Homo sapiens: one gene and its partners. The protein of the gene in region 2 purifies or fractionates together with the protein of the main gene of each other region. This does not show direct contact. Each region holds a gene or a part of one and is shown on either strand. Other genes may lie near its edges. The genes, in order: CSTA, HR, IQGAP3 and THRA.

Evidence for each region.
Region 1: the proteins of HR (region 2) and CSTA purify together in Homo sapiens (affinity purification with mass spectrometry; one large-scale study listed by BioGRID and IntAct). This does not show direct contact.
Region 3: the proteins of HR (region 2) and IQGAP3 purify together in Homo sapiens (affinity purification with mass spectrometry; one large-scale study listed by BioGRID and IntAct). This does not show direct contact.
Region 4: the proteins of HR (region 2) and THRA purify together in Homo sapiens (affinity purification with western blotting, with the first as the bait; one study listed by BioGRID). This does not show direct contact.

What each region holds. Positions count from the first base shown.
Region 1 is NC_000003.12:122,333,796-122,340,059, reverse strand, and holds part of CSTA (cystatin-A), read right to left. Parts: intron 2,514-6,264; coding exon 2,412-2,513; intron 1-2,411. UniProt on the Homo sapiens protein: This is an intracellular thiol proteinase inhibitor. Has an important role in desmosome-mediated cell-cell adhesion in the lower levels of the epidermis.
Region 2 is NC_000008.11:22,112,309-22,118,572, reverse strand, and holds the end of HR (lysine-specific demethylase hairless), read left to right. Parts: intron 1-1,533; coding exon 1,534-1,698; intron 1,699-2,144; coding exon 2,145-2,273; intron 2,274-2,810; coding exon 2,811-2,873; 3' UTR 2,874-4,154; downstream 4,155-6,264. UniProt on the Homo sapiens protein: Histone demethylase that specifically demethylates both mono- and dimethylated 'Lys-9' of histone H3. May act as a transcription regulator controlling hair biology (via targeting of collagens), neural activity, and cell cycle.
Region 3 is NC_000001.11:156,562,566-156,566,065, forward strand, and holds part of IQGAP3 (ras GTPase-activating-like protein IQGAP3), read right to left. Parts: coding exon 3,462-3,500; intron 2,868-3,461; exon of another isoform or gene 2,771-2,867; intron 2,127-2,770; coding exon 2,050-2,126; intron 1,260-2,049; coding exon 1,192-1,259; intron 1,102-1,191; coding exon 988-1,101; intron 748-987; coding exon 569-747; intron 101-568; coding exon 22-100; intron 1-21.
Region 4 is NC_000017.11:40,064,864-40,071,127, reverse strand, and holds part of THRA (thyroid hormone receptor alpha), read right to left. Parts: intron 1-6,264.

The DNA of each region.
Region 1 (6,264 bases), on a different chromosome or scaffold from region 2:
ATATAAATGATTATATTAACCTATATTATAGGCCTGAAGAAAAGTGGAGCAATGAAATTTTTACAGACGTGGAAGCAGAGTAGGAGAGATTAAGTGATTTTCCATAAATCTCTCAGCTAGTCAGTGGCACAGCCAATATTCAAACCCAGATCTGTTAGCCTCTAGCATCTACATTCTTTTCACTCTACAATGTAACATTTTTGGGGGGTACTGATCGGGGAATGAGGCCTGGCTCACAGTGCAGTGGTGCGATCGCAGCTCACTGCAACCTCAAACTCCTCGGCTCAAGTGATCCTCCTACCTCAGCTTCCCAAGTAGCTAGGACTACTGGTGTGCATCACCATGCCTAGGTAATTAAAACATTTTCTTTGTAGAGGCAGGGTCTTGCTATGTTGCCCAGAATGATCTCAAACTCCTGGCTTCAAGCTATCCTCCCACCTTGGCCTCCCAAAGTGTTCGGATTACAGGTATAAGCCACCACACCAGGCCAGTGTAACCTTGTAAAAGCTCTTATTTTGTGCTTTATATTAGAGGCAGCACAGCCAGTAGTTAAGCTCAGTCTATCTGGGTTCAAATCCTGACTCTGCTCTTGTAGTTGTGTGATCTTTTTAGTTTCTTCACCACCCTGGAACTCAGTTTTTTCGTTGGTAACCCAAGAGAAGTGATTGTACTTATCTCATAGATTTGTTGTGAGGATTAAATGAGATAAGCCCTGTTCTTAGAATAGTGCATAGTGAATTATAAGTGCTCAATAAATTTCCAGCTTATTTATTCCTCACAACACGCTGCGAAGTAGATTATTACCCTCATTGTGCAGATAAGGGAATGAAGGCTCAGAGAGGAGGAGGAGCTTCCCATAGAACAAATTGAACAAGGGTTCAAACCCAGGACACTCTGACACCTAAGCTTGTGGTCCTTCCATTCTACCACCTACCTCTTGATAGGTACTTGAAATACATAGAGAAGGTCACATCACTGGCAAGACCTTAAATCTAGAGTGCCTCAGAGCAAAGGGATCAACAGCCAGACTACCAGGAAGTAAAAGGGAACTGGGATCGGTGGCTGAGATCCAGTAGGAAAAGTTTGATAGCAGAAGGAAGAAAAGATGAGAGAGAGAGAGGAGACTGATTAAGAGAGGGCAAAAGGGTGGTCAAGGGAACAAATTTTCAAGCAGAAATTTTCAAGATAGTTATCTGATGAACTGTTGAAGAAACATGTGAGCTGGTAATATGTGAAATTTATGCATTTGAATTAATCATAAATTATTAAATATGTTAATGTTGATGGAATGTTTCCTATCTTTGCACATAATCATTTTTAACTGGAAAACTTTCTTTTCCAGCCATGAAGAAAGCAGATTGAGAATGGAGGAAATGGTGCCATTGTTTTCTGAGGATACAGCAGGGTCCTCTTTCACATGTGTCTCCCCGGGACCTGGTCGTTACTAGGAGCTCACATTTGGCAGAACAGGGCTGATCTGTGTACATAGCTCTGTACTGAAACTTTCTTATGCTGAGCTGACTAGCTCCACTTACTTCACTTACTTTTTTTTTTTTTTTTGCTGAAAAAATCTTTTAAAATGTTTATATTTTAATAGAAATATTTGTTAAAGAGAAATAAGCCACACTGTGCCCTGGTCAAATAGTGAAGTAAAGATTAAGTAAATATACTTGAATATTTGTTTTTATTTTTAAAATCAGCATTATCATCTTCTTAATATATAAGGACAAACATGGCTCTCAAATATTCATGGTTGACTTGTTCAACTGGTTTCCTCTTGATAACTTCAATTAGAACTCGATCAATGCATTGTGTAATTTTTTGACAGAGCTATAAAATTAACTTTTAAACTATTTTAAATACTCCACTCTTTTAAACTATGCCTAGAGTGCCACAAGTTAAATCTAATTTGAGTTACAAAATAGTATTTACATTATATTAATTGAAGGGCAAAAAAGGTTTAAATTATTTTCCCAGCTAATGATTTGAGTCGTTACTTTAATTTATTTAATTTAGACATAGAGAATCATACAGCTTTGAGGTAGAATCAGCTTCAAGATACCATGTGGTCCAGCCCCACACCTTCAGGCAGATGAGACGTGATCCTCCCTCCTTACCTAAGCAGCAGCACAGCCACAAATCCAGCATGCCCTGAACTGTTATGAAATCTTTTTCTATACAATTTCCAGAAATCAAGAATCAATGTAATAAAACTTTCTGAATTCACAAGAAAAAAAATGGTGTCACATCATCTACCAAATTTGAGAGTCCACCACTTGGAAGGAATCATGCTGGGCATCTTAATTTAGGACAACCGTAAGGAAGGAATTATGTGGTAGGGAAATCAGGGAATATTTTACATAAAATGAGAAATACATCTTTTGGCGCTAAAGTAGGTGCTGAACTCTAACCTTAATGTAGTAATTTGTTCCAGCAACAACTTGAGTTTTATACTGCACAGCTTCCAATTTTCCGTAAGTCTCATTTGTTTTTTCTTCAAGCTGTGGTTTAACCTAAAGAAAAGAAAAGAGGAAACAAATAATCAAAGCTATATTAGACTCCATGTATGCAATGTACCCATCTGGGAACCTCATCCTCCTAAAAGTCTTCAAAGATGGTAATGAAATCTATGAACTATTTTTATTATTTCAATAGAAAACACCTGTTTTAATACAATTACATAGGTTAAAAAGTCAAATTTTGTTGCTTTAGGCTGAATTCACATCAACTCAGTGTGGTAATGCAATATAGGAGCGTTTTGACTGCTAAAACTCTAAGAGTTATATGTATCTTTGATTAATAAAAATCAGTGGAGCAATAATTACTACTTGATTAAAACATTATTTTAAAATGATTTCAGACTTAAAAGTTGTAAAATTAGTATAATGAATTCTCTTATATCATTTACAGTTCCCTTAATTTTGCCGTTTTACATAACATAGTATAATCACCAAAATGAGGAAATTAACATGGTATAATACTATTAAGTAGTCTCTAAACCTTATCAGAATTTTGCCAGTTTTCCTGAAAATGTCTCTTTTCTGCTCCAGGATCTCATGCAGGATCCTACATTGCATTTAGTTGTCATTTCTCCTCAGTCTCCTACAATCTGGGTTCATTCCTTTTTGTTCATGGCCTTGATGTTTTTGAAGAATACTGGCCTGTTAAATGGTAGAATGTCTCTCAATTTAGGTTTGTGTGATCTCCTCTTATGTTAGTATTATACATGTTTGTAAGGATAGCACAAACGTGATGTTGTGCTTAAGTGCATCCTATCAGGAGCTACGTTTCATTACTGGTGATGTTAATTTTGATCACTTAGGATGTCTGCCAGGTTTCTCCACGGTAAAGTTACCATTTTTTTCCCCTTTGTAATTAGTAAGTGTCTTGTGAGGAGTCTTGTTTCTCGCCATACTTTCATACATGAATTTTAGCATCCATTGATGGTTCTTGCCTACAACAATGATTAATTGTGGTGTTGGCCAAATGGTAATTAAAAAATCATTTCTTGTGCATTTATTATCTGGAATTCTGCCATAAGGAAGAGCTGTTCCCTCTCTCCTCTTTATGTAGTCAATTACTTATTTTATATTAATATGACTCATGGATATTTCTTTTACTCTGTGGATTACAATTCATTACTCTATTTTGTTACTCAAATGCCCTAGATTTGGCCGTTGGGAGCTCCTTCACCTGATGCCTGTGTTCTTTCAACATGCCTCCATCATTTTATAAGCACTTCCTTACTTTCTGACTCTACAAAAGTAGAGTCAGATGTTCCAGGTTTATCTTGAAGTTTCCTTGCCTCCTCACTGGAATCAACTATTTCTCCAAGGAGTCCCTGCTCCTTTTATTGGAGAACGGTATTTAAGACCCAAGATTTGGGTGCTGTGTCTCTTGTTACTAAATGTCATTGCTTCTAGGCCCACTCAGTGGAAAGGGCTACAAAATAATATGTGTACTCACACATGCACACATCTTTACGCATTTGTGTATGTGTGTGCATATATACACACATTTATCTGTGTGTCATTATATATATACATTATATATGTGTGTGTACGTGTGTGTGTGTGTGTGTGTGTGTGTGTGTGTGTGTGTATTCCTCTGATTAAAATCAAATACCACGGCCGGGTGTGGTGGCTCATGCCTGTAATCCCAGCACTTTGGGAGGCAGAGGCGGGTGGATCACTTGAGGTCAGGAGTTTGAGACCAGTGTGACCAACATGATGAAACCCCGTCTCTACTAAAAATACAAAAATTAGCTGGGCGCAATGGTGGGTGTCTGTAATTCCAGCTACTCAGGAGGCTGAGGCAGGAGAATTGCTTGAACCTGGGAGGCGGAGGTTGCAGTGAGCCGAGATCACACCATTGCACTCCAGCCTGGGCAACAAGAGTGAAACTCTGCCTCAAAATACATAAATAAATAAATAAATAAATAAATAATAAAATAAATCAAATACCACAGGACTCATTTAGCTTTTCCCTTTTCCTTATTATAACTCCTTTCTCAAACACTGAGGAAGAATCCTGGTTCTTATTATTTGCAATGTATTCGCCTATTTTCTCAGTTCTAGCATATACATAAAATAATTTCAGAATTGTTGACCTATACCCCTGTGGAAAACAATATACTAACTAGAGTGCAGTATTTGGGTATAATTCTTATAAAGACCCTGTGATTGCATGGGCTTACCTGGATAATCCAGGATAACCTCTCCATCTCCAGAGCCTTAACTTAATCACACCTGCAAAGTCTCTTTTGCTGTGTAAAGGAACCTAGTCACAGGTTCCAGGGATTAGGACATGGACATCTTTGGAGGGCCATCATTCTGTCTACCATGGAGGGATATGGGTTGGGTTTAAATGTCAGCATTCCCGAACCCAGCATGAGAAGGGAGACAGTCCCAAATTCAATATGTAAACTTTTACTGAGCCCATCAACTTTCTGTACAGTGCTTCATTCCCACTCTCAGCTGGGCCTGATATGCAAGAGTCTACTATGAGCTCTTGACTCAGTTCCTGCTAAGTGTAAAGCTCGTCTTCTGCCGGGGTGGAGGACAGTGAGGGAGAAGGAACTATGGGAGGTCTCACTGTCCTTCATACAGATCAGTCCTCTTGCTTTTGGTCTGAGACCTTACTCCTGGCTACGACTTTTTGGTGTTGCTCATGCCTGCGCCATTGTGACGTTCTGCAGTGTGAATCTGCTTGCTTCTGGCTTAGACTTTCCCCTCTATGGGCTTAGCTTCTGTTTAGACTGCTCAGCATTTTCCATTGTTCATCTGTTTTCCAACTTCCAAAATTTTATTGGTATTTCTGAGGTGGTACTTGCCTATCTCCTGTTGTCTTTATGTCTGTGGATTTGTCCTTCAACCCCAATTCTTTTCTGTCTTTTGGAGGAAAAAGGATATAACTCTCTGTGTTGAATGTACCTTGTTTATTGAGAACTTGCTTTTATGCCCTTCATGAAAGCATTGCATGTCCATACAACTTCAATCAGGCCTCCAGTCCATCTAGGATTCTCCCAAGGCAGTCCTTCCTATCAGTGGGCAGGTTTTTTTTGTTTTTTGTTTTTTTAAATTTAAGAGACAGAATCTCCCCCTCACCCAGGCTGGAGTGCAGTGGCGTGATCATAGTTCACTGCAGCCTCGAATTCCCGGACTCAAACAATCCTCCCTGGGCAGATGTTTTGAACCTTTACTACTGATGCCTCAGTTTGAGTACCAGAACTGTTTTCAAAGATGTAGACATATGCAAACTGTGAGTTCTCAGACCATTTCTGAAAGGCCAAACACTCCACGGACCACCACTCAGTTCTCCTGTAACCTTGAGAATAGACGGGAAAAGTGTGATTGTTCTGTTGAGATGGAAATGAAATTTCAAAGTGGAGAAAGGGAGAAGACAAATAGTGAGGACAAACCAGAAGTGGGAAGAGCTAGGGGCAGGAGAGCGGAGAAAGGATGCACAGAGAAGTAGAGTAAGGAAACAGGTTATTGTCTTAGGGTCCCTTTCCAAAGCCTTTCAAAATTCCAAAGGAGGGATGGCCAGTACTTGGCACCAGTCAAGTTAGGAGCTGAGTTTGAAAGAGTTAATCTCTACACTAACCCCCAAAGTATCCATTTAAACCTCATTTTATGAATGGAGAATGTAAGGCTATGAGTTGAGCATGACTGCTTAAAGTTGAAAAATTATTCAACATAGTTATTTTAAAGTCCTTGCATGATAACTTATATATCTGATCTGTGTTCCTTCTGCTTTTCAGTC
Region 2 (6,264 bases):
GGGCTGGGATCTGAGCTTCTGTCTGTCATGGCCCCAGGTCACTACTCTATGCTCTTCCTGGAGGCAGGCAGCCTCCTCTGCCTTCTGAGACTCCGTCCGGCTGCCCACCTTTTGGTATTTGCATCTTGTTAGGGGAGACTGCCTGGAGGAGATGCTCCCGGAGGGGCTAGCAAGGAAGGGGGCTGAGGGAAGTGGAGGGAGAGATGGGTCAGGTGAGGAGCCAGGGAAGGGGAAGGTGATGGGGTGGGCTGGAGGCAAGAAGCTTGAGGCGCAGGGGAGGAGAGAGTCCAGGGGTAAGGCGAGGGCAGCCCCGTGGTTCCCAAGTCCAGCTGAGCCCTCATTATCCTGGGGAAAAGACTTCCACCTAGTGTCACCCCTCGCCAAGGCACACACACACACGGAGACGTGCAGAGGCCAGCATGGTGTGCACCCCTCCTGCCCACAGGTACACACATGTGTAGATACACACACAGATGCTGGGACACGCAGAGGGGAGCAGACAAGCACACCTCCACACACAGATGGCCTCTTCTGGGCTGGGTGTGGCTGGCCGTGGGCAGTCACTACGGCCCAACCCAGTGACTCACGGGGCAGGGCTGAGGGGCACAGTCTCCCTGGGTGGCCTGGGAAACACTGCTCAGCTCCAGGATGGAGCTGAATCTCCAAGGGCAAAGGAATCTTGGCACCCAGCTGGGACTCCCCTAGGGTCCAATTTGCTTCACCAGCCTTCCCTTCCCCCACGCCCCATCTTGCAGCCCTAAGCCCAGGGGCAATGGCTGAGGTCCTTGCCAAAGGGGGTGGATTGGGCTGGTGGTGGGTTGGAGCACGATGCTGGCGTCCCCTTTGCACATGTTCCCTGGGCACCTCTGTCCTCTGCGAGTCCCTGCCTGCCCAGAGAGCTCCCTGCTCTGGTTAGGCTTGTGAGGTCCCCGTAGCTGTGGCTGCTGCAGAGGCCTCAGCCTGGCCGGAAAGCCTGTTCACCTGCTGGCACTCAGAGCCTCGCAGTGGTCCTTCCCTTTTCTGCATCCGGAATCTTAGGGAGACCCTGATGAACACTTTGAGTTGTCTCCCCAGGGACACACAGCTCTCTCCTCATCCACCACTTAGCACACAATTCTGGCCATTCCAAAGACTTCAGATGAAGAAGTCCTGGTAGACAGTTTATGAACTGGGATTATGCAGGACGTCTCCCTCGGATTTGCAGAAAGGGGTACCATTGAGAGAGGGAGGAGAGGGGCCGAGGTCACAGAGGCTGTTAAAGGCCTCCAGCCCCAGAAAAGCAGGGATTCAGTCTGCCCAACTGTAGGGCCTTGAATCCCTTCCTTCTAAGCTCCTTCCAGCCAAATGTGTGTTCTGCCAACCTGAGCTGCCCCAGCCCCAAACAAACTCAGCCATGCCCTCCCTGCCTGCCCTTCAAGACTTGACCCTTCGGCTCTTTTCTCCACCCCTGGCCTCTGGAAAGTCCATGCCCCATCCTCCTGCAGCCCTGCCCTTCCCTCCCCATCTCGCTCATTCCCCCTTCTCTTCTTTGAGGTGTGCCCGGCCGGGGCAGGCGCCCTGGAGCCTGGCGCCCCAGGCAGCTGCTACCTGGATGCAGGGCTGCGGCGGCGCCTGCGGGAGGAGTGGGGCGTGAGCTGCTGGACCCTGCTCCAGGCCCCCGGAGAGGCCGTGCTGGTGCCTGCAGGGGCTCCCCACCAGGTGCTTCCCAGCGGGCAGGGGCTCTGCGGGGAGATCAGGATGGCAGAAGCGACCCAATCAAGGCCGCAGGCATCCAACATCCCCTCAATACCCAAGAGCCGGGCAGGGCAGGGAGCCGCACGCTGCTGTGGGGAAGAGATAACGGGGGAGCCAAGAGGCCTTGAAGTCACTGAGCCCAACTGGGACTGGCGCCAGAGTCCACTCCTGGTCTCCTGGGCATGCTGATGTCAGGGGGCTCGCAGGGAGACTTTAGGGTCTCTCCAGCAGTTCTGAGTCCCGGTTTTGGCCACAGGCTTTGAGGTGTCCAGTGGTGCATCCAGGAATCTGCTCTCTGAGAGCCAGGGGTCGGGGGTGGTTGTCATTAGAGGAAGCGAACCTCAGGGACCAGGGGGACAGGGAGAGGATGTGTGATCTTGAGCCTCACTGTCCATGTCCCCCCGACACAGGTGCAGGGCCTGGTGAGCACAGTCAGCGTCACTCAGCACTTCCTCTCCCCTGAGACCTCTGCCCTCTCTGCTCAGCTCTGCCACCAGGGACCCAGCCTTCCCCCTGACTGCCACCTGCTTTATGCCCAGGTGAGTGGGATGTGGGCCAGCAGGCTGGGTGTGCTACCCAAGCCTCCCACCTCCCTGTGCCACAGCTGCAGTGGACATAGCAGATCCCACCCTGTGCCAAGCAGGCAGCCACCCTGTGCAGGGGCAGAGTATTCCTTTTGTTTAGTTTGTTTCATTTTGTTTTTTGAGATGGAGTCTTGTTCTGTCACCTAGGCTGGAGTGCAGTGGCACTATCTCAGCTCCCTGCAACCTCCGCCTCCTGGGTTCAAGTGATTCTCCTGCCTCAGCCTCCCAAGTAGCTGGGACTACAGGCGCCCACCACCATGCCTGGTTAAATTTTTTTGGGATTTTTAGTAGACGTGGGGTTTCACCATGTTGGCCAGACCGGTCTTGAACTCCTGACCTCAAATGATCCACCTACCTTGGCCTCCCAAAGTGCTGGGATTACAGGTGTGAGCCACCGCATCTGGCCAGAGTATTCCTTTTAAGTAGGGTGGGGGACAGCGGGTGGGCCCAGGAATGTAGTTGAAAATGCTTTGTCCTCTCTCTTTTTCCTAGATGGACTGGGCTGTGTTCCAAGCAGTGAAGGTGGCCGTGGGGACATTACAGGAGGCCAAATAGAGGGATGCTAGGTGTCTGGGATCGGGGTGGGGACAGGTAGACCAGGTGCTCAGCCCAGGCACAACTTCAGCAGGGGATGGCGCTAGGGGACTTGGGGATTTCTGGTCAACCCCACAAGCACCACTCTGGGCACAAGCAGGGCACTCTGTTCCCCTCCCCCTTAAGCCAACAACCACAGTGCCACCAAGCTCACACCTGTCCTTCTCAGGCTGGCATCTCCCCCACCCTGTGCCCCTTTTCATGGTACCAGGCCCGCACTGGGGGCAATTGACTTCCTCCAATCCCCACTCCTCCGAGACCCAGGAGACAAACAGCCCTTCCTTGGGGAAACTTGGGAATCATTCTGGCTTAAACAACACCTCCTCCTGCTGCTCACTCCCGCTGAGCCCACTCTACTGCCCCAGCTCCGTTTCTACCACCGCATCCTCACTGGGCTCACTGCAGGCATGCTGAACAAGGGGCCTCCAACCTTCTGCCCTCCTGCCAAAAGATCTGGGGAGTGTGAGGAGAGGGTGGCATCAGGAGCTGCTCAGGCTTGGCGGAGGGAGCGGCATGGGCGATGTCACTCAGCCCCTTCCCGGTCCGCCCGCTTCCCTCCTTCATGATTTCCATTAAAGTCTGTTGTTTTGTGACTGCTGCCAGTGTGGTTGGCCCTGCCCCTGCAGGCCACATGGTCCAGGGAGGGAGGGGGACATGGAAATCTGCCTTAGAGACAAATGGAGTAGGGCAGCCCGGAGCTGGGGCCCAAGGGACAGGACACCACTGCCTGCTCTTCGTCTGGGGCCTGGGGCCTTGCCTCCCACTGAGGAGACTTTGGGTGGGGTGGGGGGCTGTCCCCCAAAGATGCTCCTGAGTGCAAGAGCAGGCAAGGCAGAGTCCTGGGGCACAGCCACGAGGTGACCTCCCTGTGCAGAGACTCCCGAGCCCTACTCCACCCAGCAAGCTCCAGTCCGCCCCATCTCTCCCGTCTACCCTGACCTGGAGATCCAGAAGTATGGCCCAGAAGAGCCCTTGCCCCGCCTGTCTGCCCTTGGTGGCAGTGGCCATGGCCGACGCCAGGCCCAGCCACCCTGGGACTGAGCCTGACTGCTTCAGACAGCCGACCCCTCCTTGTCCCCGCTCCACGCCCGCAGCCTCCTGGTGGCGCTCCGCCCTCTCCCGCTTCCTTTGTGTATCTCAGCCCTACAAAGAAAAACACTCCCACTCTTGTCATACCTAATTGTTCCTGCTGTGGTTTGGGGAATTTTTTTTATTAAATAAAGTTTTTTATTATAAGGGTAATATACTTTCAGAACATTCAGAAAATAAGAAAGTCACCTTCTAGCCCATCATTACACACCTCCAACTACTATGAGTATTTTGGCATATTCCCTCCCAGTGCTTTCCCCAAGGATTTGCTGTGCACATAGCTGGATTGCTGTGTTTTGTCCTTGGTTTCTTTCTTTCGACACCATATCATAATCATTTTCTGTGTTGCTACCTAATCTTCATTTTAAATGACTGCTTATATTCCATTAAGTGGCTTTGCCATGATTTACAAAACTATGCTTTATTTAAAAAAAAAAATGTAGGGCTTCTTTCATTGTTTGGAGAACTCAGTTATTTTCATTTTTTTATGGGATAAAGAGGAGAAAAGAAAAGAAAAAACTGAGAACTCTACAGTTTACTTTGCTTTTGTTTTCATTTAATTTATCTCATCTGGCCAGGCGACGTGGTTCACGCCTGTAATCCTAGCACTTGGGGAGGCAGAGGCGGGTGGATCACTTGAGGTCAGGAGTTCAAGACCAGCCTGGCCAATATGGTGAAACCCTGTCTCTACTAAAATACCAAAAAAAAAAAAAAAAAAAAAAAAAAAAATTAGCTGGGCATGGTGGCAGGCGCCTGTAATCCCAGCTACACGGGAGGCTGAGGCAGAAGAATCGCTTGAACCTGGGAGGTGGAGATTGCAGTCAGCCGAAATCATGCCACTGCACTCCAGCCTGGGAGACAGAGCAAAACTCTGCCTCCAAAATAATAATAATAATAATAATAATAATAATAATAATAATAATTTATCTCATTTAATCCCTTTTATTAAAATGATCTCAGTTAATCCGTTATCAGGATTTTAAGACAGATAGGATTTATTTCCATTTTACAGAAGAAGAAACAGGCAAGCTACAATTAAGTAAATTACCCAAGGTCGCATAGCAATTTTAGTGGAAGAACTGGGATTTGAACCAAGTTTTCTGAGTCAAGACACCTTGTGTACATTATAGTCTTAACTCTTAGTGGAATTTAAAGACAGGCTTGCCCTCCTCTCTGTCCTTCTTCTTCCAATGTACGTGCTTTATAGCTGATCATGTTCCAAGTGGCCCCGAATGACCCATTCCTACCTACGTTTCATCTTTTGTTTGAGACAGGGTCTCACTCTGTCACCCAGGCTGGAATGCAGTGATGCAATCTCAGCTCACTGCAACCTCTGCCTCCCGGACTCACGCCATCCTCCCACCTCAGCCTCCTGAGTAGCTGGGACTACAGGTGCATGCCACCATGCCTAATTTTGGTAGTTTTTGTAGAGACAGGGTCTTGCCACACTGCCCAGGCTGGTCTCGAACTCCTGGGCTCAAGCAATGTGCCCACCTTGGCCTTCCAAAGTTCTGGGATTACAAGCGTGATCCACCATGCCCCACTTCATCTTCTGTAGCCATGTCCTGATGTCACCTCAGAACCCCAAATCTGGAGTATTTCCTGTGGGAAGATGGTTCTCTGAATTTTACCCATTGGGGTGGGAACAGTGCACCACTAAACCTCTGTCTTCCCCTCAAGACCTTATCTCCTCTTAACCGCCTCTGGCCTTCCAGGTGGGTCACAATGCCCTTGAGGACATATTTGGTCTCTTTGTAAACAGAAGTGAATCAATGTTCATTTGTTCCAGCACTGTTCCTGAGAATGCAGCCGGACCAGGTAGGGACTGACTCGGAGACTCGTCTTGGGGCACTCTGTGGCACTGTTCCTCAGAGACCCTTGGGCCTCTGCTGCTCACAGGGTCTACCAGCTGTGCTCTGCCTGCAGCCCCTCTGTCGCTCAGAAATCCCAGACATACAACCAGCCAAGCTGGAAGTGAGCGCAGGGTTGCATACCCAATGCCTTCTTTCCTTTTCTCTGATAAAATTCTCAGACTTTTTATTTTCCCTTTTTACCCAGGAGCATAGATTCGAGTTGCCCTGAATATACATGCTCAGGCTTTTTATTTTGAAATAATTTTAGATTTACAGCTGAGTCACAAAGATAGCACAGGAAGTTCCCAATTATCCTTCACCCAGCCTCCCCTATTGTGAACATCTTACATAACCATGGTGCCTTGATCAAAACTACGACATTAATATTGATACCACACTACGAACGAAGC
Region 3 (3,500 bases), on a different chromosome or scaffold from region 2:
CTCCTGCTCGAGGTCTCTTACCGTTGACATGGTTGATATTGCCCTGGATTTCAGCCTGAGTTAGGTAGTGGTCATAGATGTCCTGGCTTTCTCTGTCATCCTGCAAAAACTCCATTGAAAGGGAACCTGGGAAACCCAATTTAATCTCCTTGTCCTGCTCTTCCCTGCCTGGCTACACTTATTTCTTCTTCTGGGGACCTTCCCAAGGCCAAAGTTCAGTCTGCTCAGAATTCAGGAATTGTGGGGTCTAAAACACTTGGCACTGACATAATTAAGCCAAACCAACCTTTGGAACCTCCAGTCCAATCTCATTCTGTTCTACATTCCAGCACCCCTCTCAGGCTTCCCTGAAGATCATCCCCCAAGAACCTCTTCTCCAGTCTTCTCTTCGGAATTCTCATCATTCTTCCAAGTTCCTTTCCTATTTCTCTAAAATCACTGATAAATTATGGTTTCTCTAAGAAGCAATTTTGGATACTAGAGACATGACAGATAGGAGTCCCGGTTTCACTTGAGACTTTCCAGCCACTCAACTTTTCGGTCCCTGCAACCCAAGACTACTCCTTACATGGTTCCTGGCATTGGCTGCCTTCTCCATCTTGGCCTGGGCCAGCATCTCTTGGTAGACGGCTGCCAGAGGCTCTCGGAGATTCTCCAGAAGAGCACTGGGATTCTGCAAGGCAGCCAGGGTGTCCTCCACCACCCCTCGCTCCACTGCTTCATTGATGGCAAGAACAGCTGCATGGACTGGGAGAGGGCATGGAAACAAGGTCAGGAGGCCAGAGTGAATCCCAGATTGGAGCGCAACCAGTAGCAGCCCACTCTAATGTCATCCTTTTTCCCACCCTCAAGGGCCAGACAAACCAGGTAGCCTGATGGCCCTATCTGTGGATGAGAGCTGGCCAGAACCCATCCAATGGCTGTGAGGCTTGGAGCCCTCCCATACGCATTGAGCCTACTCCTGGCAGGGCAGAGCCTAGTCCTTACCTGCAGCCTCATCCACCGAGAGCTCATTGGCCAAGATGCCCCCGATCTTGCTGAAGGCAGGCAGCTGGAGGCCATATTTGGCCAGTTCGGACGCCATGTTGCTGAGTTCCTCAGCTGCAATGATGCCACAGGTGCCCTTCATCAGGCCCAGAACCCCCAAGACCCTGCCCAGGCTGTGGTGGTCAGGGAAGGAGCTGGGCTTACCTGTGAATTTCACTTTCCCGTATAGATCATGTATCTGAGGGGCCAATCCCAGCCGGAAGAGGAAGAGACTAGGAAAAAACGGAAGGCATTGGAAGGCACTGGGGCCTATTCATTTTGACACTCTGCCCACGATGGGTTTGAAGGGGATACTATGGGGACCTAGAGATGAAGACCACTCAGCACCTGCCCTCAAGTCATCCCCAACCCACATAAAGAAATATGACCATAAATCAGCCCAAGGAAAGTGCTGCAGAAGGTAAATAAGATGGTGTTGGGGGTCTGAGGGGATTAGGAAGGCTTCACAGAGAAGGCCACATTGCAGTAGCAGGTCACTCAATGGAGAGAGAGGACAGGAAGGGCGCAGCAAGCAGATACCTGCTGAGCTAAGGCACAGGGGCACAAAGGGACATGGGAAGTGGTCAGAAAGAGATGGCATGGTAAACACAAGGAACCGGTCGGTCACTTGCTGTGATTTAGCCAACTGGTTGCTGATGGCTGGCTGTAAGTAGGACCAAAGAGCCTACACCATCCATACTAAGTGTCTTGCCTGTGTTGCTCTCAATAGGTCCTGTTCTGATTCCTTTATACCCAGTTACAAACTGAAGGCCCTACCCTGCTACTTTCCTATCTCTGGTACCCTGCCTGCCCTTCCCCTTCACCCACACAGGCCATACATAAATGTGCCCACAGACATGCACAAAAATCTAAACACAACTCTGTAAATCTGAAACCTCACTCTCCTGAGCAGTGCTCCCTGTGGTCTACCCTTCATCCTTCTTTCTTGCTGAGTTTGTTGTTGTTGATTGTTGGTCGCATCCACCTAGAGGAACCTGGATGATAAAATTTGAGGTCTCTCACCTGAGAGCATGGATGCAGTAGACTACCCGGGGCATGTTCTTTTTGTCATAGATGTCCGTGGTCTCTGGGAAGAAGGTCTAGAGGAGAAACCAGCCAGTTACTGCCATTGGGAACCTTTAAGCACCACCAAATGCGGAGAGGGGGTGCCGAGGAATGGGTCTTCCTCTCCAACCTGAGGTGTGTGTTCCCTTGTTACCTGGGGTGTCTAGGTCAGTCTCCCCCAACCATTTCTAGTCAGCCTAGTATAAAAGAAATTCACTGAGGATGCATACTAAGCCAAGGCTCAGCCACAGACACATAGTCCTAGGGTGCCCTGGATTAACCAAACACCAGATAAGGCCATCAAGGCTACAGGATATAAGCCATATCCTCCAAAAACAATAACAGCAACAACAACAAAAAACCAGGCCCCCAGTTGTCTTCCAGATGTCTATAGTGAGCCTGCATGCCTCACCTTAGACCCTTGCCAGAGATGTGGTATGCTGGAGAGCTGGCCTACTCCCATGCAGGGCCCAATGAAGCATATATTGCCAAGGACCACAAAAGTGTCAGGCTGTTATCCCTGTCTCCAAGCCAGCGGCTTCTGATCAATGAGAGCCCTTCTAAGAACCGAGTGGCACCAGGTATGGCTTCTCAATGCCACCTGACAACTGTAATGAGGCCTAACCTCAATATATCTTGGTTATATTTAGATTCACAATAAAAGACCAAATTTAGAGACCTAGAGTGTTCCAGTCCCACTGAAGACACATGACCTCTATTGCTTCTGCCTCCCATCGAAGTGTCTTTACTGCTGTTTCCTGTCTTATAGTGCCTTTCTACAGGGAAGAAAAACAAAGCAGAAAGAAACCATACATTGTAGAATCCTATCATGCCTTCATTTGTATAGCTCTTCACAGTTCACAAAGGGAGTTCACACAGACCATGTGATCTTCCTGACAACACTGTAAGGTAGACAGGGCAGGGCTCACTATCCCCATTTTACAGATGAGTAACAAATTGAGGTTCAAAGAGTGAAATCATGTGTCCAGTTGGGGTTTTGGACCTAGGCTTCTAACTCAAAGTCTGCCACCTAGGGATGTGTATACCCTTGCTTCACACTGTGAAATTTGGTGGAGACAAGGCTGGCCAATACGAGCATGACATAGCAGCCTCCCACCCCCTGCATAATGGGAACCGTGCCACTCAGGCCAGGGAAACTTCACCTCCTTTCATCCACAGGGAAGAGGAGGCAGAGAAAAAAATAACCTGGTTCAAAGACACACAGCTGCAAGGAACTGTTCTCTTAGATTAAGTTAGTTTAGAAGACACATGGAAATAGGGCTAAAGGGTCCAGGGAGATAAAGCATGGGATTGTGGGAGGTGGCTGGTAAGGAGTAAAGATGAATACCAATCTTCAGGCCCAGTATTACCGAAGGCAGACCGATGTGGGCTATTGCAGATAGCCAAAA
Region 4 (6,264 bases), on a different chromosome or scaffold from region 2:
AAAAGGGTGGAAAGATGGGAGGAGGGGTAAAAAGGCTGGTGGGGGAAAGAGGGAAGAAGGGAGGAGGGGGAAGAACAAAGAAATGGGACAGGGCTGGGGTAGAGCTAGGGGTGACAAGGCAGTAGAGGGAGAGGAAGAAAGGGGAGCCAGAGATGGGGGATGGGGAGAAGGGGTGAGGTAGAAAGGAGGACAGATAAAGGGAGGAGAGACACATGAAGGAGGGGAGACAAAGAGAGAAAGGTAACAAAGAAAGATGGGTGGGGGGCTTCGTACCCTGTCTAAGTCCCACCCCATGCAGGCTGGGGGGAGGGGGGCGTAGGAATGGTTTCCACGGTGACAGCTGGTTCTTGGTGGCCTGGCATGTGGGCTATTAATAGTTCTGTGGGTAGGTTCACACCTCCCTCTCCCCTTCCCCTCTGCCTGCTGCTAGGGTGGGGGGAGATCCCTCCCCCACCACCCACTCCTGATCACCCAGCCTCCCACCATGGGAGCCAGGAAGGGCGATGCTGAGGGGCCGGGGCGGCCACCGTGGCCCAGACACATAAATGGGCATGCATGGGCACAGGCGTCTATGGGCAGCACTGCCCCCCATGCCAACACGGGCACCACAGGCAGCCACCCACACCAAGGGCCCCTGGGAGTCTGTGGTGGTGGCAGTGCTGCAGCAGCGACATGTGCCCCCATGCTGAGGGGCAGAGGCCTCTCTAGGACCGGGACTCCCTGTCCTTTCCCATACCCCCTGTTCTATTCTCAGGTATGGATTGAGCAGGGCTGCCCCACCCAACTCTCTGTTATCCTAGTGCCAGGAAGGAGAGGAGGAGTGAAGGCGGGAAGGAAGGTACTATTTGGCAGGTGTGATGTGGCAGAGGAGTACACACAGACTCAGGGCCCCAGCCTGGCAGGCATGGGGGAGACGGGAGGAGGGGAGGCGGCACCCCTTGGTGAGCTCTCACTGGGCCCCCAGGAGACAGGTTCTGGAGCTGGGGGGCAGTGACTCATCACCTAGCCACTGTGGGACCTTAGAGGCTAGAGAATGGGAGATGGGGTGGGGATCCTCATAAGGGGGAGATTGGTTACTTAAACAAAGGATCCTCCCCACCCCGCCCCAAAAGAATATAACAGGAAACCCCCCCTGCAGGTCAGAGACAGAAAGACATAAACAGCAGCCTTGACTTGGGCCAGATGCCCAGTATTAACATCAAAGACTGCTTCCCACTCGGCTCCCCCATAGCCTCACCCACCTGCTGCTCTCCTCTCCCTCCTCCTGCCCGGGCCAGCTCCAGCCAGGCATCAAGGTGGGTGCCCAGGTCTGGAGGTCTCCTCCCAGGTCACATCCATCCCCCATGACCACTGGTGGGTGGTCATGCCCACACCCATGCTGGAGAACTCAGCCCCTCCTTATCAGCCCACAGAACTTCACGCCCCCCCTGCCCAATTCCCCTCAGGAATGGAGGCAGGAGATCCAAGTAGCCAAGAAAGCAGAAGCAGGAGCACCCCCAAGCTGGGCACGGCACATTCTCCCCACCCTCCCCCAGCAGCCAGCGGGTAATTGGAGCTGGGAGCTGGGGCAGCTGAATGCTGGAGGCATGAATGTCACGGGGCCAAGGCACTTGCTGCAGATGGCACCATGGGCACAAGGCTTGGGGTCCTCCCTCCTCACTCCCTCATCTAAGGCAGTAGAAGAAGTTGCCTGCAAGCCCTGAAGAGCATGGCCTAGGAGGGGAGGGAATGGTGGAGGGGGAAAGAAAGGGAGGGATGTTCTCCCAGGCACCCCAGAGGCTGGAGCTAGCCCCTAACCAAGCAGAACTGGCAGAGGCAGAGAGAGAGAGACAGAGACAGAGACAGAGAGACAGGGACAGAAAGGGAGGAGGGAGGGAATAGGAAGGAGGGAGGAAGGGGGAGGGAAGAGAGAAAGATTGAGAGTGTGTGTGTGAGAGAGAGAGAGGGAGGGAGAGAAGGAGGGAGAGACAGAGAGGGGGAGGGGGAGAGAGAGAGGGAGAGGGAAGAGGAAGGGAGGGAGGGAGAGAGAGAGGGAGGGAGAGAGGGAGGGAGAGAGCGCGCGCGTGAATGCAGCTGAGTCTCCGGCACACACACGGACACGTGCAGACACACACACTCACCCCGCATGCGCAGAGCCACAGGGCTCTGGGTACCGTTCCAGGAGATATTCAGAGCCCTCCCCAGCCCACACATGCACAAAAACACTCTCACATGGATGCGTGCACAACACACCCACTCACTGATGTGTACAAAAATGCCGAAAGACACCAAAGCCTCGGTTCCCCTGTTTCCCCACCCCCATGCCTGGTAAAAGAGAAAAAGAAACAGGCAGCTGGGGCTCTGGGAGCCAAGAGCCGATCTCTTCTTTAGAAGAGGAAAAGAGGAGGAGGAGGAGGTGGGCCAGGGGCTTGGTCCAATCATTCTGCTCTTGGCCACTGCTGAGGGGCATGGCTGAGGCTTTGGTATCAACCTTTAATGCCCACCCCCAAAACAGCGAAGCAAGGATAGTATTTCCTGGGCACCAGTAACACCCATCTTGCTTCCCTTGTCTACCCAGCAAACTTCTGACCCTCCCTCTGGACCACCTCACGCAATGGCATACCGGAGGGAGGTCCCTATGACCCCAGCTTTGGCCTGCCAAGTGACACCAAGGTGGAACCACATGTGCCCCCACCACACACCAGCCCCAGATACTTCAGTGAGAGACTGAGAACTGTCTCTGGTTCCAGGCAGCATGTGTATGCCCCACCCTGGCATGTGCCAGGCCCTGGGAAAAAAGGAGAATCCACAGGCATTGCTCACCATGCCAGGATGCAACATGGATTGAACACAGGGGTCATCCCACCTTGTGTTATTTGCCCTCAACCTGAGTGAGACAGGAACCATTGTCTCTAGATAATGAAAACCCAGGCCCAAAGTCATACGACTAGTGAATGTCAACAGCCAGGCCTCCCAACTCCCAGCCAGTGATCTTCCCACCACGGTCATGCTTGCCTCCCTCCCCAAGAGACACAACAGTTCTCCAAAGTCCCCTAGACACCTTTGCAGCCATGAGAACTAGAGTTGGGTTTTTTGTTTTGTTTTCTGTCTGTTTTGAGAGGATGTGTGTGTGGGGGGTCTCACTCTGTTGTTCAGGCTAGAGTGCAGTGGCACAATCACAGCTCACCGCAGCCTCGACCTTCCAGGCTTAAGCGATCCTCCGGCCTCAGCCTCCCAAGTAGCTGGTAACACAGGCATGCGCCACCACACCTGGCTAACTTTTTAAAGTTGTTTTTAGAGATGGGGTCTCACTATGTTGACCAGGCTGATCATGAACTACTGGCCTCAAGTGATCCTCCCGCCTTGGCCTCCCAAAATATTGAGATTACAGGCATGAGCCACTGTGCCCAGCCGAGAACTAGAGTTGAGATTGGTTCCCACTCCAAAGGCTTCCCGTCACCCCTACAGGGTATCCTCCCATTGTCCTTCCTTCACCTTGAGGGGCAGGGCTAAATAAAAGGGGTTTGGAGAGGGGATCCTGATCACCAGACTCACAAAGGCAAAGAGGCAACCCAGGACAGATGCTGGATCTCAAAGTGCTGTGCCCACCACACTGGTCATTACTCAGTGCTTCAGTTTCTCTCTGCCACCACCTTTCACACTAAGTACCACTCCATGGAGGGCAGGGGAATCTGGTGCCTATCAGCCAGAGCTGGGTCCTGGTTGACCAATGCTGGGCTCCCAGGAGGGAGGAAGGGCACTGCCTCCTCTTTGAGCCCACACATAAGAGAGGGGACGGCTTTCCTTGTTCTCTCTCTCCCACCCCCAGAGCTCAGACCCTGAACAGAGATGCAGTGATGCCCAAAGATTTATGCAGGTGCCCCTAGCTGGTGGGGTGTGTCCCAGGCTGAGGGGCCAAGGGCTCCTTGTAAGCTGAAGGGCGAGGGTCAAAGGAGGGTGGGGCAGAGGGGCCTGCCTTGGGCTCTTTCCCATACACTCATTCCAGGCTGCAAAAATTTGTCTGGGAGGAAAAGATTACATGACGGTGAGAAGGCTGGAAATTGGAGACCCACTGCCCCAGGCCCCAGTCTCACTGATGTCTAGGAGACCCAATTCTCCACGAAGCTTCTCTAAGAAATCTGGGAGACCCCAGGCCCACAGCTTCCTTCACCCATCACAACCGCTCACATATACAGTTTGTTATGAACTAGGCACTTTTAAAAACATTTTTCCTCAAAAAAGCTAAATGAGGTAGATATGATCATCCCCAATTTACAGATGAGGCAACGGGGAAGTTAAATCGCTTGCTCAAAGTCACACATCCAGCAAGTGACAGAGCTGGGATTCAGACCTAGGCAGTCCAGGTCAATCATGGCCGTCATGATCATCACCATCATCTCTGTTCTTAGCTGTGATGGTATATCACCTGCTTGATAGATAATGCCTTGTTCTTTTTTGTTTTTCTTTTTTTTTTTTTTTTTTTTTGAGACGGAGTCTCGCTCTGTCACCCAGTCTGTAGTGCAGTGGTACAATCTCAGCTCACTGCAACCTCCACCTCCTGGGTTCAAGCGATTCTCCTGCCTCAGCCTCCTGAGTAGCTGGGATTACAGGACCCCGCCACCACACCCAGCTAAGTTTTGTATTTTTAGTAGAGATGGGGTTTCACCATCTTGGTCAGACTGGTCTTGAACTCCTGACCTCAGGTGATCTGCCTGCCTCCGCCTCCCAGTGTGCTAGGATTACGGGTGTGAGCCACTGTGCCCGGCCCAATGCCTTGTTCTTTCATCCAGCTATGTGTTCCCTGAGACCAAGCCTCAGTCTTTCCCCTCTGTAGCTGCCCTGTGGGTTCTCTGCCAAGTGCCTCCACCTCCAAATAGTCCAAGGCTAGAGGGGAGCATAGCGAGAAGTGCTTGGTGCCCCCGGGCTCGATGTCTCCTGCCTGAGTTCCCCCTCCTCAAATTCCCTCTCCAGAAGAGGTACCCCTTCTAGGCTGGAACCTGCACTCACGGGTGGGAGGGCCTCGCTTAGTACATACTTAGTCTAGGCAGCTGTGCCCTCAGAACCAGGCCCTGAGGCTGGGCAAAAAGGACACAGCTGTTGGGCATCTCTGAGGTGGGCCTCAGCTGCCAGGGGTGTGGAGAAAGGCCATTGTGAGCCCTGCAGTGGACCCAACTCAGCAGGGTCCTGCCAGCTCCCGCCACTGCCCATGGGGGCGGTTCTTTTCCAGCTTGGGCCAGTGTGGGGGGAGCCTCTTCATGGCTTGTTTAAGAGCTGCTAGCTGGCTGCAGCCTGCACCCTGAGGGTGCCCACAGAACTGGTGTCTCCAGACATGCAGGCCCGAGGGGTCAGCATGGGCAGTGGCTGACCCCCCCCCCCTTCCCCCATTCCCAGCCCCTAAAACTTGCTGGCCACAGCTGCGGCACTAAGGAAGTGCAGGAAGTCCTGAGCAGCCAGCTGAGCCCCCCGCCCCCCACCCCAACCTCAAGCTGACCCCAGAGGCTGCGCAGGGGGGGCAGAGGGGCGGAGCTTGGGTATTAACAACTGGAAAAGTATGAAGAACATTGCTGCCAGTCCCCAGCTCTGAGACAAGGACAGGGGTAGATCGGGGGTAGCAACAGGGTGAGAGAGAGTTACAGACTGGCAGAGAAACAAGGAGAGAGAGAGGGAGAATCAGACACTGCAAGACAGAGCAACAGAGAGACAGAGTTAGAGAGAAATTCCAAGTCAAAAGTACATATCACTCACACAGACACTCGCCAGCCGATGGCCTCTTAAGGAAAGCTTCCAAGTTTGGACAGGAGGGTACAGGTGGGAAAAAGGGCCAGACTCAAGGTGGGGCGCAGGAACTCAGCTGGAAGTGACTGACTGTTCCCAGGAAAGACCCAGGCAAATGACTCAGAGCAGGGGCAGTTAGACACCCCTGAGCTTTTAGGGTAGGGAGGAGAGCAGCTCTCCCCTTCCCCAACAGTCAAGAGAATCCTAGCTTCTAGAAGTCACTGGACACTGCTTTGAGCCCATGACTCGGCCCTCTGGAACCCCCCTGAACCCACTGTCTTTGCTCTTGTTTCTCTGTCCCTCTAAAAGAAAGAAAGAAAAAAAAAACAGCCCATTCCCGCACAGTGGCTGAGCCTAGAGGAAAAAGGGGAGGAGGAAGCTGAAGGGGAAAAATTTGTGATTGTGTGCATCTAAGTGTGTGCTCGGCTGCACAGGCTGCAGTTGTGTGTATCTGGGGTTGTGTGGACACGACTGTTGGTGTGGACCTGCAACTGTGGGGACCTGGGCCTT